2 separate regions of the Homo sapiens genome follow, and region 2 is linked to region 1. The links come from fine-mapping of genetic effects on gene expression. Tissue or cell type: fibroblasts. Region 1 holds a variant in brackets; the other region holds the start of a gene. All regions are shown on one strand. Distances are between the middles of the regions.

What was found. PIP is the estimated chance that this variant, and not a neighbour inherited with it, causes the effect.
Region 2: PDE8B starts here. The variant in region 1 is fine-mapped to the expression of PDE8B in fibroblasts (GTEx, PIP above 0.99).

The regions. Positions count from the first base shown.
Region 1 is chr5:77,428,545-77,436,793 of GRCh38, forward strand. It overlaps WDR41 (WD repeat domain 41), which reads right to left. Exons shown (of 13, transcript NM_018268.4): 12 at 7,717-7,850; 13 at 2,389-4,743. The coding sequence ends at 4,591. Among named protein-coding and RNA genes, the nearest start is that of WDR41, 60 kb to the right of the region's middle. The variant A/C (reference allele first, on the strand shown) is at 4,067.
Region 2 is chr5:77,207,620-77,215,619 of GRCh38, forward strand. It overlaps PDE8B (phosphodiesterase 8B), which reads left to right and starts at 3,061. Exons shown (of 22, transcript NM_003719.5): 1 at 3,061-3,645. The coding sequence starts at 3,307.

The DNA of each region.
Region 1 (8,249 bases):
TAAAAATGCTTTAAGACAGCTAGGTACTAAAGCGTCAACAATTTCTGCTCTTTACCAGTGTAATCTACGGTATAATCTTCTGGCCTGCGAACTAGTCTATTCTTCCACATAGTCAACTTGTTAGAAATACAGGCTTTCAGATGATATGTGTATCAGATAGTTTATATTATATAAACTATTATAACTGCCTCTTACACAGAGTTGTTTACTTAAATGTCATGTGCTGAGGAGGGCCGTATTAGGAAAATGCAACACTCTCTAATAATTTCCGTGACTAGTAAGAGAAGGAAGCCAGTTATAAAACACTGCTGGACCAGAATGACCCTATAATTTCCTAAGATCATTCTTTATTTCTAATTTAAGATTTTTAAATTTACTTGCCCTCCATGTCAGGACTGGTTAGCATTCTGGGCAAAAAAAAAACAAGCCTGTCAGTTCACTCAGAACCTACTCAGCTTTAGAGAGAGAAACAGAAGGGATGATCTTGTGCCCTTGCGCTATGTGAATATAGCCAGAGACTGAGGTAATAAATATATTTTAAAATAAAAATGACAAGGGATTTGTACACTGTAACACTATGTAGTGTTACTTCTGCTGTTGCAAGTATCTTAACTGTTGAAAGCTAAACTCAGGAAATGGAGAAAATGTACATAATATACATTGACCCATTATTTTATTCTAAATTGAAAGTCCAACTTTTAGCAGCAGTCTACCTGCAACTACTGAACACCATCAGGTTTGAGTCCCTACCAGAATCTCCCATCATACTGTTATCCCCCATCTCTGTGACCTTAGGGCATGCATGAAAACAAAAGCAATCTAGTCCCTAGGGTTGGAGACTGCCCTCTAGACAGTTTTTCATGGCAGAAAATTAGAATACAAGTATACCTCATTTTATTGCATTCTGCTTCATTGTGCTTCAAAGATACTGCCTTTTCTACAAATTGAGGGCTTGTGGCCACCCTGCATAGAGCAAGTCTATCGGGGCATTTTCCCAGCATGGGCTCACTTTGTGTAAGTGTCACATTTTGGTAACTCTTAGAGTATTTCAAATGTTTTTATTCTTGTATCTGTCATGGTGGTCTGTGATCAGTGATCTTTGTTACTACTGTAATTGTTTTAGGGTACTGCAAACCATGCCCGTATAAGACAGTGAACTTAATTGATAAATCTTGTGTATATTCTAACTGTTCCACCAACTAGCGGTTTCCAGTCTCTCCCTCTTCTTAGACCTCCCTATTCCCTGAGACACAACAATATCGAAATTAAGCCAATTAATAACCTACAGTAGCCTGTAAATGTGCAAGTAAAAGAGTCACATGTCTCTCACTTTAAATCAAAAGCTACAGATAATAAAGCTTAGTGAAGAAGGCATGTTGAAAGCCCAGGCAGGTGAAAGCCATGCCTCTTACACCAGTTAGCCAAGTTATGCAAAGGAAGAGTTCTTGAAAGTGTTAACTCCAGTGAACATGCAAACAAGAAAGTGAAACAGCCTTACTGCTGAGATGGAGAAAGTCTGAGTGGTCTATATAGATTAAACAAGCCACAACATTCCCTTAAGCCAAAGCCTAATTAATTCTTCAATTCTTTCTTCGAAGACTGAGAGGTGAGGATGCTACAGAAGAAAAGCTGGAAGCAAGCAGAGGTTGGTTCATGAAACTATCCCCATTAACGTCAGAGTGCAAGGGACAACAACAGCAGGAAGTTGTCCAGATGATCTAGCTAAGATCACTGAAGGCGACTACACTAAACAACTGAGTTTGTGAAGATGAAATGGTCTTCTATTAGAAGAGATGTCATCTAGGACTTCATAGCTGGGGAGAAGAAGTTCAATGCCAGCGAGTGTAGTTGGTGCCTTTAAGTTGAAGTCAGAGTTTATTTACCAGTCCAAAAATCTTAAGGCCCTTAAGAATTATGTTAAATCTACTCTGCCTATGCTCTAGAAGTGGAATAACAAAGCCTAGATGACAGCATATCTGTTTATAGCATGGTTTATTGAATATTTAAGCCTATGGTTGAGACCTGCTCAAATTTCTTTCCAAATATTACTGCCCATTACAATGTTACCTGGTCACCTAAGAGTTCTGATGGAGATGTACAAGGAGGTTCATGTTGTCTTCGTGCCAGCTACCACAACATCTATGCTGCAGTCCATGGGTCAAGGAGTCACTTTGACTTTTAAGTCTTATTTATTTAAGAAATACATTTAATAAGGCTGTAGCTGCCCTAACTAGTGATTCCTCTGAAGAGTCTGGGCAAAGTCAATTGAAAACCTTCTGGGAAGCATTTAGCATTCTAGATGCCACTAAGAACATTCTGATTCATGGGAGGCGGTCAAAATTCCAGCATTAAAAGGAGTCTGGAAGAAGTGGAGCCTGAAGATGTGAATGAATTGCTGTAATCTCATGATCAAACTTTAATAGATGAGAAGTTGCTTAAGAATGTGTATAGAAAGTGGTTTCTGGAGACAGTCATTTCCACAGTGAAGATGCTGTAAACATAGTTGAAATGACAACAAAGGATTTAGAATATTCTATAAACTTAGTTCATAAAGGAGCATCAGGATTTGAGATGACAGACTCTAAATTTTGAAAGAAGTTCTACTGTGGGTAAAATGCTATTAAATAGTATTACATGTTACAGAGATCTCATTTGTGAAAGGAAGTCAATTGATTTGGAAAACTTCATCGCTATCTTATTTTAAGGAACTGCCACAGCCACCCCAACCTTCAGTAACCACCTTAGTCAACAGCCAGCAGTATCAAGACCCTCCACCAGCAAAAAGATTATGACTCGCTGAAGGCTCAGATGATTGTTAGCATTTTTTAGCAATAAAGTATTCTTAAGGTATGTACATTTTTTAGAAATTTAAGACTGTAGTATAAACACAAGTTTTATAGGCACTGGGAAACCAAAAACTAGATGTGACTCACTCTATTTGCAATAGTTGCTTTTTTGATGTGGTCTGAAACCTAACCTGTAGTATCTCTGAGGTACGCCTGTATAATGACCAGAAGGAATTTGCTGTGGTACTTACGGTACCATTTGCTTCCAAAATTCATGTGATTTCTACCACTCCATTTGAATAGATTACTATCACAAAATACTAGCCTAGAACAGGCTAGGAAGTAAAACAGTTAAGTCTATGGCTCCCTTGTGTCATACAACTTCAGAAAACAACTTTACAAATGTATGGGCCAATGCAGAATTTCTAAAGGAAAAAGCACGTGAATAATGGGAGAAAGTCTTCTGTAATTGAGGTAGCTTAAGTTTTAATATTTCTCCATAGAACTTTTCATGACTCAATGTTGTTTGGATTTAAAGTAGTCATATAAGCCTTTTCTCATTCAGTCTTCAGTTCCTGTTTTTAGAGCTGCTTGGTGATACTGGGCACTACAGATTTAATTGCAAGGCCTTACTGCACTGGGCCTCAGTTTCCTCATTTGTAACATTATGCCACTGGTCTACTCAGATGACCTTAACTCTTCCAGTCTTTGTAGGTAGTTGTGGAAGCAACTGTCAAAGCTAAAACTAGTAAAAGAACTTATGGAGATTCCCTTTAGGGTATATTTGTAGTATATTTGTATAATGAACAAATAAATCTGTAGGTTTTCTGTAAGAAGGGTCAGTCTGCTAACATCTGTCACGTTGCCCTTTCTTCATCAGTAGTTTAAGAATTTCAATCTTTAATGTGTAGACTACTTTCTAATATTTTCATTTTTTAGCACCAAAAGGAGAAAACATATTGTTACAAGGCTGGTTATAGTGTCTCAATGGACACTGCAAAGAACTACATAAAAGAAGTCTGTCTCAAGCAGTTCGTATTTGAGTCAGTGGTCAGATGGGGCAGTTGCGCTCAGCTGCAGTCCCTGACTCCGGAAACACTGTGCCTCTCAAATGATCTAGAGCTCATCCTTGGCGTACATGAGGGGCAGTTGTTGTTCTAGTACCCATTTAGCCCATGGCTCTTCAAGCCAATTCACACTGGGAAAAACACACCCTCACAAGATGCCTATCCATTTGAGTTCATACAGGTTTTAGTAGCTAGAACTAAAAAACATTTTTA[A/C]AATTATCTAAACAAATTGGTACCAAAGAAAACTTGCCATACTTAAACAGTATATATGTTCCCTTTTTTGGCTGAGAGATTCAAGTTTGTGCTATATAGAACACTAACAGTTACTAAAGACTAGGAAAATTTGCAGGAGAAAGGCTATTTTTAAACTTCACAATAATTCTAAAGGAAGCCAAATAATAAAACTTCTAATAAATGCCATAACTTAACTATTACCTCTATTTGTACCTTTCACAAGGATCTAGGTTCAAAATAAGCTCAAAACACAGCACTCACCACTTCAACAGCAGCTCAAAGTCAAATGGAAAAACTTGTGGTATATTCTTTGGAGGATATACTAGGACCTGAGAAGCAACATGTTCCTGGTTGGTAGGTCCACAAAAAATTTAAACATGTAGAATTTTATGGACTGACAAAAAAAATTACCAATTTAAGTGATCAATATATTAATGGTTTTCAGAGTAGTACCCGATATTTGATGTTCAAGGTTCATGCATGTGTATTTTTAATTCCTTAAACTAGACAGCAAGGTATAAGTCACCATTCTCCTCTAATTTTTGAAATAATCTTAAACTGCGCAATCCAGATTCTCGCTCTCCATTTTTCCACAAAATAATGAGATGATCAGCGGAGCACGTCACTAGTCCATGATCTTCAAAGTATAGAAACATCTGTAAAGAAAATTAAAACTGATTATAGGGACCCCGAAAAGCAGAGAAGTGTCTAATACCACATTAACACATGTGCGTGTGAGATATGTGCCTTAAAGACTCCTTTGGATCTGGGTGTAGAACTTCATTTCATTTTTCAGTATTGGTAAGTCACATACAAATAATATCTAATATTTTAATCAGAATTTTGTTAATATTGTTCAACTACAGAATAGCTATTTTTGTAAAGTACATGAATTCTCATAGTTCTTCCAGATTTTTTCATCATCTGATTTTTCAAGTATTGGTTTTACTTAACCATTACTTATACTGTATAATGGCTATGGAAAAAATGTCTGAATTCTAAATTTCCCAAGATAAACACTGGCTTCAGCTCTCTATAAAAGTAGATATACTCAATCCATAGGTGTTAAGTGTCAGCACTACGTTTATGGTCCCTACCCTCAAGAAGATTCTGAAAAGCAAATCATAATTGAAACAATAAAGGTACCAATGAGAGATTATGTAATCAGGTACTAAATAATGCAGTATAGACTATGACATGTCACAGAAATTCAGAAAAAGCTTCAAAGGGAGAAAATGCCCCAAGTAAGGGGAAGGGGCTTGCCCAGTGAAGGAATAGGCTGGAAGCTAAGAATAGGAAAACAGAGTGTTGACAAAAGGCAGCATGAATACTATGGGGTGAAGAGTTGTATCAGAAAAGTGAATCAATGAAAAGGATGAGGTCCTCGAAGGAAAGGGTGAAATAAAAGAGAAACAGGGCCGGGCGTGGTGGCTCACACCTGTAATCTCAGCACTTCGGGAGGCTGAGGTGGGTGGACTGCCTGAGGTCAGGAGTTTAAGGCCAGCCTGGCCAAACATGGTGAAACCCTGTCTATACTAAAAATTAGCTGGGTATCTGTAATCCCAGCTACTCGGGAGGCCGAGGAAAGAGAATCGCTTGAACCCAGGAGGTAGAGGTTGCAGTGAGTGGAGATTGCGCCATTGTACTCCAACCTGGGCAACAAGAGCAAAACTCCCTCTCGGGAAAAAAAACAAGAGTTTTCTCTGAAATGACATATACATTTCTGAAGACCACAGGATAAGACTCAGCTGAGGATGCAGGAGTGAAGGGAGGAAACATGGGAGCAGAATTCCTTCGGAAACTGGAAAACACAAAATTCAGTACACAGGTAGAGGGGTTGCGCCAGTAGAGCAAGGATGAAAATAGAAATGAGGACCAGCCTGGCCAACATGGTGACACCCCATCTCTACTAAAAGTACAAAAATTAGCTGGGCGTGGTGGCGGGCACCTGTAATCCCAGCTACTTGGGAGACTGAGGCAGGAGAATTGCTTAAACCTGGGAGGCGGAGAGTACAGTGACCCAAGACTGCACTCCAGCCTGGGCAACAGAGTGAGATGCTGTCTCAAAGAAAAAAAAAGAAATGAGGAAATTCAGGTGACACTGCAAAGATAGCCTAGATTTTATCAACGAAGCTGGAGATGCTTTTTAAAAGTGTTCAGGTCTCAACACTTTCACTCAGGAAAATTCCTAAGAAGCTGACACTGTTTTATAGAATGAGAAATGTGCCACATTCAAACACATTTTGAATGTCTTTTACATGGGGTTTTCCCTACCATCTAAAAACCTTTTTAATGAGTTCCTACTATTTAAAAAATAAAGTCCAAACTCCTCAGCCTTACATTCAAGGACATCCATAATCTGACCCCAAACCACGTTCCCAGGCTTTATCCCCTACTAGTGTCTGTTCACAGGAACCCAGCGCTCCGGCCTAGCCAAGGTGCTCCTTGCCACCACGTAAATGCTATCTTTGCCCTTCTGCCTACCACAGTCCATGCTCACCTCCCAACCATAAACACAAAGTTAAAAACTGAGCTACTTGTTAGAGGAAAGCAAAGATAACTATGACACTGTACCCCAACATCAAGGAGCTTATGATGACAAGGCTATATACTCATCCTACTAAACTTCAAGGTTCAGCTCAAGTGTCAAGTCCTATATCCTCTAACCATTTACAAGATTCAGCAAGAAATGTTTCTTCTGAGTCACTGCTGCTTACTTGGGTCCATCAAATGCAGCCTAGGGTAACAGCCTATTAGGTCTATACCCCTTCTCTCCACTCAAGGGTAAGATCCATGAGGGCAAGGACTGTTTTCATCTCTCTCTGTAAACTCCAGCAGCCAGTGTTTAGCACAGTGCCTGAAATACAGGAAATGCTCACTAACAAGGATGCTGCCGCTGCTCCTCCTAAGCATGAATGCCCTTTCAAATGAAAAGAAATTTTTTGTTCTTTGGCTATGAAACAGGGAAGAACAATTTAAGAAATTCCTTAGGGCCCTGATTACACTGTTATTAGTTCTCACAGCTAATCTGTTACCTCAACTGATCTTATTCCTTCACTACAGGCAATGATGCCTGCAGCAAATATTAATGTATCTGGATTTCTACATGTTAAAAGCTTACGCATTTCATAATTTTCAACTAAAACTTTCATATTTGCACAATGAAAATCAAGGCATAGGTTTCATTAAAGCTAACAAACTATTATCCTTCAAAGGCAGGAGAAACAGGACTCTGTTCATGAATTTGATAAAGGCCCCTGGAATTCGATTCTGTTAAGGCTTTAACTGTATACACATATAACCACAACCCTTCATGCATCCTCTGTTTACTGTTGTCATATAGTCAACATTATTCACACTGCCCTTACTGTCAGCTATCTCCAGCTCCTAAATAATGGTGATTAAGACCATTCTTAAAAGCAATGCATTCCTTGTTTCCTCAAATCATATATCCGGAAAGGGAGACCCTAACTGCACATACTATAGCCTATCCCATTCCATGTTCAGATCTGACAAACACCTACAGATATAAGAAAAAGTATATGCCTTTATGAGATCAACTGAAAGAAAAGAGCAATGAAATGCAAAAGCAGGAGTTGCTTGGACATTCTGTGGCTAAACAGCAATACCTCCACAGATGATGAGTGTCCAATCAAATCTCCAATAAGCTCCAGTGAACATGAAGTAGCATTTTCTTGCTGCTTTTTAACAGGTTGGCTGGCTTGTTTGCTGACTCTTCCAAATCCCCACATGTTAAAAAAACCTAGAAAAAGAATCATTTCCAAAATTACTGTGCTCTGTACTTACAATAACATGAGATCAGAAAAACAAAATTTAAATGTGAAGAGGTTCCAGACTTATTTTAGTCAAGGGCTAAGTGGACAGTACCTGAGCACCGTGCTAGGGTTTTGTGAATATGTTATTTCATCTTTCTTAGCTAACCAGGTCTGTTCTTCATCTCTTTTTATTGCCCCTAGTCACCCACTGGTGCAGGTATATTAACAAAAAGACACTTGGAATAAAACAGGACAGAAACAAAGCTTGAATGGCAGTGTCTAACTGTCAAGGGAAAAAAGGGCAAAACTCAGATCAACAAACAAGGCATAGGGGAAAAGCTGTATATGTATGTGCAAAAGCAACACCCCAGGACTTCAGGAAGTCA
Region 2 (8,000 bases), 220 kb before region 1:
CTGTCACCTGGGATGCATTGAAGTGGTCAGTGGCAATTGGTTCAGAAATCTCTTCTGTGGGTCAGAACTCAGGCTTCAGAACTAAGCTGTGGAAATGATTTCAGTTAAACCATTTCCCCTCCACTTGCACACTTCTGCAAGTTTCAGCAGCCAGATCTGTTCCAGCAATGGGGGCAGGTTGCACATTCCCACTGAGAACACTTGGTGGAGATTATAAGGACACATTATTTTTTTCTTTCACTAAGCCAGAATTGGCAGTTGAAGATGTGTTTGAGCTACTGTCTGCTCTGGGAATGGGAAGAAAACTGTATACCTAGTGCATTTCCCCTTCTATCTTCTATTCCAACAAAGAAGTTGCAGTCAATGAAAGTCACTGGTCCTAATATGAACTGTTCAGTTAACCCACTAAAGCAGCCTAGTCCTATTCACTAGCTACCTTGAGGTCACCTACTCTTTCAAGGCTTAATTATTCTTATTTTTTAATGTAGAAAGTTCAACCTAAATTTGTTTCTGGGTGACTTCTAGCTTCATGATTCAGCTCCTAATGTTCTCCACCAGAAGATTGGTTGTAATTTCTGTTTCATCACAGTCTTCTTGCCTTTCAAAGCCTCAGTGAGTGACTGGTGCTTTTTTCTGGGTGGTTTCATTGCATTCCTAGAGAAAACTCTGAAAAAGTAGACATGTGTCATGAGAATATGCATGGCTGTAAATTTCAGTATGTGAAGGCTGTCATTGATAGCTCCATGAAAGGTAATGACTGAAATGCTATATGCATTATCACAGGTAAGCTTTAGGAATCATTAAACCCTGACTTGAACGTTACATCAGGGACTAGTATAGAGACTAGTGTTTTTGCAATTTAACTCTGATGTTGTTTTCCCAGGTCCTAAATTGTCCTTTGGAAGTAGAGCAGATGGTTGCTATGAGGCTTAGTTTTAAATGAATGACTGTCCCCATATCTCAGTCTCAGCCATTTAATGTGGTGTTCTTACAGGCATGGATGGGACAAGGAAACATGGATCTCAGCAGCCTGGAAGGGAACTGTGGGTGGAGGCTATGATGCCAGGAAAGGACTTACTCCTCCAGCTACTGGGAGTGCTGCCAGCAGAAAGCCCTTGGCTCAGCTGACATCTCCTAGGGGCAGTGCCTCAGCTGAAGAGAGCCACCTTGCCCAAGGTCGCTGAGGTGGCCTGCATGTAAAGACTGGTCCATGCTGGGGTATAAAGGCCCACCAGAACAACTCAGAACCCAGCCCCAACTCAGAACAACTCTGAAGCATCATCCCACCTTCAGAATCCTCCCTGCAGGGATGCCTGAGGCTTGGTCAATTTCTCCCTCTGCTCAAGCTTGCCTCCCTCCATTCCCTCCCTTTATTTCCTCCCACAAATGTTGACTACAAGAGCACTTCCTAAAAAGCCTCCCTCTGCCTGCTAAACACCATCTCAGAATCTGCTTCTAGGAGGACCCAACCTGTGCAGAAATTTTATGAGCAATTTGCCTGTCCATTAAAAAATACAGCATAGACTTTTTCCAGGTTAGCTGGAGATGGAGTTTTTTTGTATCAAAAAAAGAGAGCTAAACTGAGAAGAGAAGCAAAGGTAGAAGAATAAGGTTAGACTCTCCCTGTATAACTGAATTTGGGATTGGGAATGATATCTTGCTTCTCTATGAAATTTAGAAACTGTCTTTTGAAGTCTTCATCCAGTCACATCCAAGAGTGGTCCAGGAAGAAAAAGGAAAATAAGAATGAAAAAAAAACAAAAAACAAACCTTAAAATTGGATACTTCTTTGTGCCTTGCATTAAGCCTCTATGTTACTGCCCTTGTCCGTATAAGCAACTCTAGATAAAATCCTTTCTTAGACCATCTAATTTATCTCCCCGTGCCATTGTGAAAATCGGGCAGGAATTACTGCGGGAACCAGTGACTGAATGGGCAGTGGTGTCTCGCAGCTGTAACTCAGAGTTTACAAGGGAAGGATGAACAGCAGCCATCCTTCTAAAGGCATTCTTCCTCTCCTCCAGCACAGCTCAGTCTGTGCATGCCTCACCAAGGAGAATGAGGGAAGGCCTTGTTGACTGCCCAGCCCAGAGTGTGAGGAACAGCAGTTGACATGGGCGGCTGGACGGGATAGAAACCAGCATGAACATTTAGTGACACCTAAGGAAGAGGTGAAAATGGGGGAGAAAGCCAAGAACCATCAGACAGCTTCTTTCTGTTCTTGCCTTGGATCTTAGGGGAACGTATGTGTTCAAGGGTGCCTTCCTCCGCAGGGCCTCCCATCCCTTGGCACAAACTTCCAAACGATGAGTAGACATGGAATGGGCTTCTTCTGAAGACTGGGTCACCATCCAACTCAGCCTTCGGAGTAGGCGGTGGGGCTGGGGGAAGAGGACGGAACCATGAGGTCTCTCCATCACTTCCCGGGTGTGTTGAGAGGCAAGCAAATGCGGTGGGTGGGCCTGGGCTGTAGGGCCCCTGCCATTTCGGGAGGGGCCTCCTGGTGTTTAGCTCTGGGATGTGTGAAAATGTGTTGGTGAAAAGCGAGAGGCTTACACAGCCCTTCAGGGGAAGAGGGGCTGGGGCGCTGGGGGCGGCGTCGGGATGAGTGCAGAAGAGACGAGGCCTCTGGACAGCGGAGGAGGAGGGGAGGGCGCCGAGGCGCGGTGCCAGCTGCCGCGCACAGGGGCCCCGCGGCGGAGCCGAGCCGCGGGCACGCTCTGCCCTGTCGGGAGAGCTCCGGGAGCGGCGGGAGGGGCGGAGGGGCGCAGTGGGGCCCGGGCGGCTGCGGCCGCGGAGCCGGGGCACCTGAGGAGGAAGGAGGGTGGGAGCGAGGGAGGGAGGGGACGGGCGCAGACCGAAAGTGGGGAAAGAAGGTGCAGGCAGGCGGGCAGGCGGGCGGGCGCCCTGGCCCAGGGCCGCGGGTGCGGGAGCCCGGCGAGGTCGAGCTGGGCGGCGGCGGGGGCCGCGCCGAGGGAGGAGGGGAAGGCGGAGGCGCGGGGAGCGTGTTTGGGGCGCCGCGGCGGGGAGGGTGGCGGCCGCTGGTGCGCGCGGGGCGCTGTGTATGCGCGCTCCCCCGCTCGGGGAGGAAGATGGCCCAAAAGGGAAAGTTGGGGTGACGCGCGCGGTCCCCGGAGGCTCGGCGGGGGGCACCGCGGCCAGCCCGACGGAGCGGCGGACACACAGGCCGGGGGGCGCGCAGTCCGGGCGCCGCCGCGGCCGCCCCCTCACTGCAGGTGGCAGCGGGTGCGCTGGGTCCCGGCGGCCGCGGGCGCGGGCGGGCGCGCGGGGGAGCCCGGCCGAGGGATGGGCTGCGCCCCCAGCATCCATGTCTCGCAGAGCGGCGTGATCTACTGCCGGGACTCGGACGAGTCCAGCTCGCCCCGCCAGACCACCAGCGTGTCGCAGGGCCCGGCGGCACCCCTGCCCGGCCTCTTCGTCCAGACCGACGCCGCCGACGCCATCCCCCCGAGCCGCGCGTCGGGACCCCCCAGCGTAGCCCGCGTCCGCAGGGCCCGCACCGAGCTGGGCAGCGGTAGCAGCGCGGGTTCCGCAGCCCCCGCCGCGACCACCAGCAGGGGCCGGAGGCGCCACTGCTGCAGCAGCGCCGAGGCCGAGACTCAGACCTGCTACACCAGCGTGAAGGTAAATGCCCCGCGCTGGCACACGCCGTGGGGGCCGTCCGCCCCGTCGGCGGGGCTCGCACGGGTAGGGGGCTCCGGCGGAGTTGGGTGACCGTGAGGCGGTTGGTTTGGAGAGGTTGTCACTAAGGAGGAGTTTACTTTTCATTTGTGGAGATGATGGGAGCCCAGGAAATGTGGTCAGAAAAAGGCCCCTGGAGGGGTCCTGGAAGCGTCCTTAGCTGGTCCTGGGGGACTGGGCGGGGAAGGGAGCGCAGAAGGAAGCAGGTGGGCTGGCCTGTTCCTCCTTGAGGGCAGGAAGGCTGTGGCTTGGTTTATGCAGGAAGAGGGGTGGGGACCATTGAGAGCATTCGGTGGCCAGTCCTGTTGAATGAAATCTGAGCACTGAGCTGGATTTGCGTGCCTTGTAGGTGACTGGTGCAGTTGCAGCACCAGGATAGATAGTGCCCCATATTCCGATTTTTACCTGGGATTACCAGCCAGGCTGGAGTCTCAGCACAGGAACCGAGCGTAGGGATTTGTGAATGAATGAGTGTTCGTGTTTTAAGAGATGTGGGAACGGAGCAGAGTGGAACCTGTTGTTTGTCACTGTAACGTTTCTCTGGGTTGGCTGCATCCTAGACAGAATTGAGAGAACCGGGCCATGAGTTCGGAGTGTCAGCAGAGCCACCGTGAGGGGACGTGGTTTCCAGTGCAGTACAGCTGTCTGAGGATGATTCTGCACATACAACTGATCTTCCCAGAGAGTGGGATTTTGAGGAAGTGGAAAAAATTGTTTAGATGGTTAAAGCAGTCGCTAAATATTTATTTCTTAAAGACAGAAGAAAAATAATTATTTAAATAGTGTCCTCCCGTATGTTCTCAAAGTACCGTTAAATCCAAGAGGCTTTTCATTGTGTAAATCTGGGCACTGGGTCTTTTTTCCTTTCAGCAAACAAGATAACAATGGCATATCCTATTGTACAGAGAGAAAAAAATACTCCTAATGTCAGATAGAATCACAGCCTTTACCTGGTCAATAGGTTACCAAGAACCATTCCATGGATTATTTGTCAAAGACACATTTGTATTTTTAATAGTTAAAAACTTGGTCTTCATTGGATGAAGGCAGCCCACAGTGGAGGAGTGAGGAGAAGGATAACATGTTTTGGCTTCAATCTGGAAGTCCAAAAGTTTTTTAATGAACCTATTTTTTTTTTAACAGCATCTGATTGTTTAACATGAAGCTTGACTGATGTTTGCTTGTGGTTGCAGTGTTTCTCTGGCAGTAATCATAATCACCATTATAGTAAAAACATCGTTTATTGAGCACCTACTATGTGCCAGGAGTAAGCTTTCTCTCCTAACTATTGAATGTTAACAGTGTGATCTTAGCATAGCATGTCTGAAGACTAGAGTCTAGGATTTATGACAGTACAAACCTACCAGTTGCCCATTCGTTACAGAGGCATGTGCTGAACGCTATACTTTGCTTTTGTCAAGCTCTCTCTCTCTCCCCCTCCCTGTTCACACAAAGTTAGCTTTAGGAGCAATTTTCAGGGATGAAAATGTTAAATTTGGTGAAAATATTAAGTTGGGATATTATCAGTAAAGACCATCCTTTTGCCTGACGGTTGAAGACCTGAAGCAGTAGTTCAAAATTGTGACAGCTCATGAACTTTGTGATACTTTTTTTGGTTGCTCCAGAGAAATTGTGAATTTTTGTTTTCTAGAATATCTATAATCTCAGTTTAGTACTTGGCAACTCTAGCTACTCCATGTTTGTTCAGTAGAAGAAAGAATACTGAATGAACCCATTCTGTACATTTTTAATACTTCCCTCAAGAGGCTGCTTAGAGACCAAATGAAGTAAAAACTGAAGGGACAATGAGCCCCAATTATTAGCAGCTTGTATAAACTTGTATTAATCTCATTGCTACTTGGCTTAAGTATTAAAAGGCTTGACCTGGGTAGGAGTTTAACTCATTTTGCTTTATCAAGAAGATTCCCAAATAAGAGCTTAATTCACTCTAACCCATTACTGGGAATGTTGGAAATGAAACCCCTGGTTCATTGACTTAACACTACTTTGCATTGTGTGGATCTCAGAAAGTATATATTTGAAGTGAAATTTGAGACCAGAGTTATTTATGCAAATCTTACAGAATTATTATCACAGAACTGCCCTAATATATTTAATAGTATCCTTTTAGGCCTGTGACTCGGTGTTGTATTGTCTTTTCTCAATCGTAAAGTTCACATGTTCTGTGCCCTTTTGTTGCTGAGATAATTTTATAAAAACTTTACATTCATTTTTTTGTAGACTAAGCATTCTTTTTTTGCCGTAAGAGTTTGAGATAGTTGCTAGGCACGTGGTGGTGCCCCACCCCTTTCCAAAGCACACAGGTGGAAAAATAAAATCTTTACCATTTGGTCCTGTTTACAGTGGTGGAAGGTTGTAATAGTTTCCACCCCCTCCCCCTGGCCATTTTACATCAATTATGAAGTGTATCCTCATTATCTACTTGGCCTCTGGTATTCCCCAGAGTGCAAAAATGTGTGCTTGATCTCTCTCTCTCTCTTTTCTAGCAATAATTCATCTCATTAAGCTTTTAGAATGATGAGGCATTATGATGTCAAACATGATGTCAACAGGAACCTTCCTGAATACCTAATTTGCAAAAAAAAAAGGGTTATAAGCATTAATAATTCATATGCAGTACAATGATATCACATGGGTTTCCATTTCTGGTAAGAAGTTAGATTTGTCTCCCAATTGCTGTGAAAATGCAACTTCCTAGCAATTTCTTTCCTTTTTGCTTGCCTTTTCAAAAATAGTACTCCAACAGGAGAATCCTGCAGGATGTTCACTCTTGATATTGTGCCAGTTTTGTAATTCTTGTTCAGAAATCCTCAGAGGAGATGGTTGAACCTCTCTCTGGGAAGAACCAGGGATTCTTACAAGTTTTCTCATACCAGCTGTTCCTACTTGGGAGCATCTGGGACTAGACAGCCAGTTGTAGAGAAGAATCGTTATTGACAATATCGTCAACTTGCTATGACCTCTGTGTAGGTTCACTCTTTTGTGGATCAGACACAGGATGTTGTTAGTTTCCAGATGGCAGCATCACCAGCTCCCCGTTTTCCCTCCATTCATACAGAATGTGCTCATTTGTTCATTCAGTATTTGTGGCCAGACTGTGTTGTAGGTGCTAGCGATTCAGGAAATATCCATGAAATTTGGTAAGCAAAGCCTAATGAGGAGGATAAATCTCCTGTAAAATGGTGTGCCTAAGCCAGTTATTAGTGACTGCTATGTTTTCTGTTCCATAGCACTCCAGAATTTGTGAGGATAATCCTGAGTTGACTATATATAAAAGGAAAATAAATAGATATTCCACTGACCTTATGGTAAATAATAATGAGATTTTATTTGGGGGAGGAGTAGAGCTATTTTGGAAAAAAGTCATTTTTGTTTTCTAAGTCAGTGTTTTGGAGTCAAACTTTACGCAAGAATCACCTAGAGAGCTTGTTAAAATATAGATTGCTGGACTCCACTCCCAGAGATTCTGATTTAGTAGGTCTTGGGTGGGGCCTGAGAATTTGAATTTCTAACAAGCTTCCAGGAGATGCTAGTGTTGCTGATCTGGGGACCCCATTTTGAGAACCACTGCTTTTTACAGTGGTGAATTAAATTATCTGTCTGTTGACCAGGCGAATGAGGTGGGGCCACCTCTAGCAGAGTGCATAGTACCACACTGTCTTTATCTGGGGTACTGGTCATAGCACTGCTTTCATCTTAGTTCACTTCTGTATGGGAAACCTGCTATCCCTGTACAGGAAGTCAAAACGCTGAGCCTCCGAGATTGGCTAAAAAGTCTGTAAGTGAGGAGTGTTGGATCATGTAACCAACTCTGGTTTCTTGAGGTTAAGTTTTCCCCAGGATCCTTTTGGGTTTGTACAGGTCCTAATGTCTTGCTTTGCCACCACAACAGAAGTCTAAAGCAAGGCTGGATGTTACATGATACAGGCACATATTCTCTTCTCAGCTCTTGGAATTCTTGCTAGGCCTTTCACCATCATTTTTCATTTTAAAATGAAGTATAAAGTTTAATAAGCTCAAATGAGTCCTGCAAGCTGATTTCATAAAATCCAAGTTTGCCTTCTGCCATTGTATATATGATTACAATTTAGTCCCTTCTTTTCCCAGCACATTAATTAGAATGAATGAGCACATTTTCCTTATTTTCATGACTTTCTTCAGTAGTTCCATGAATTTTTAAGGACTATCAGGTAATTCTTCCTTTTGAAGGAAAGTAAGTCCTCAAGCCAGGATGTAACATAGTATAAGCTGCCAGCTGTTCAGAGATGATATAGTTT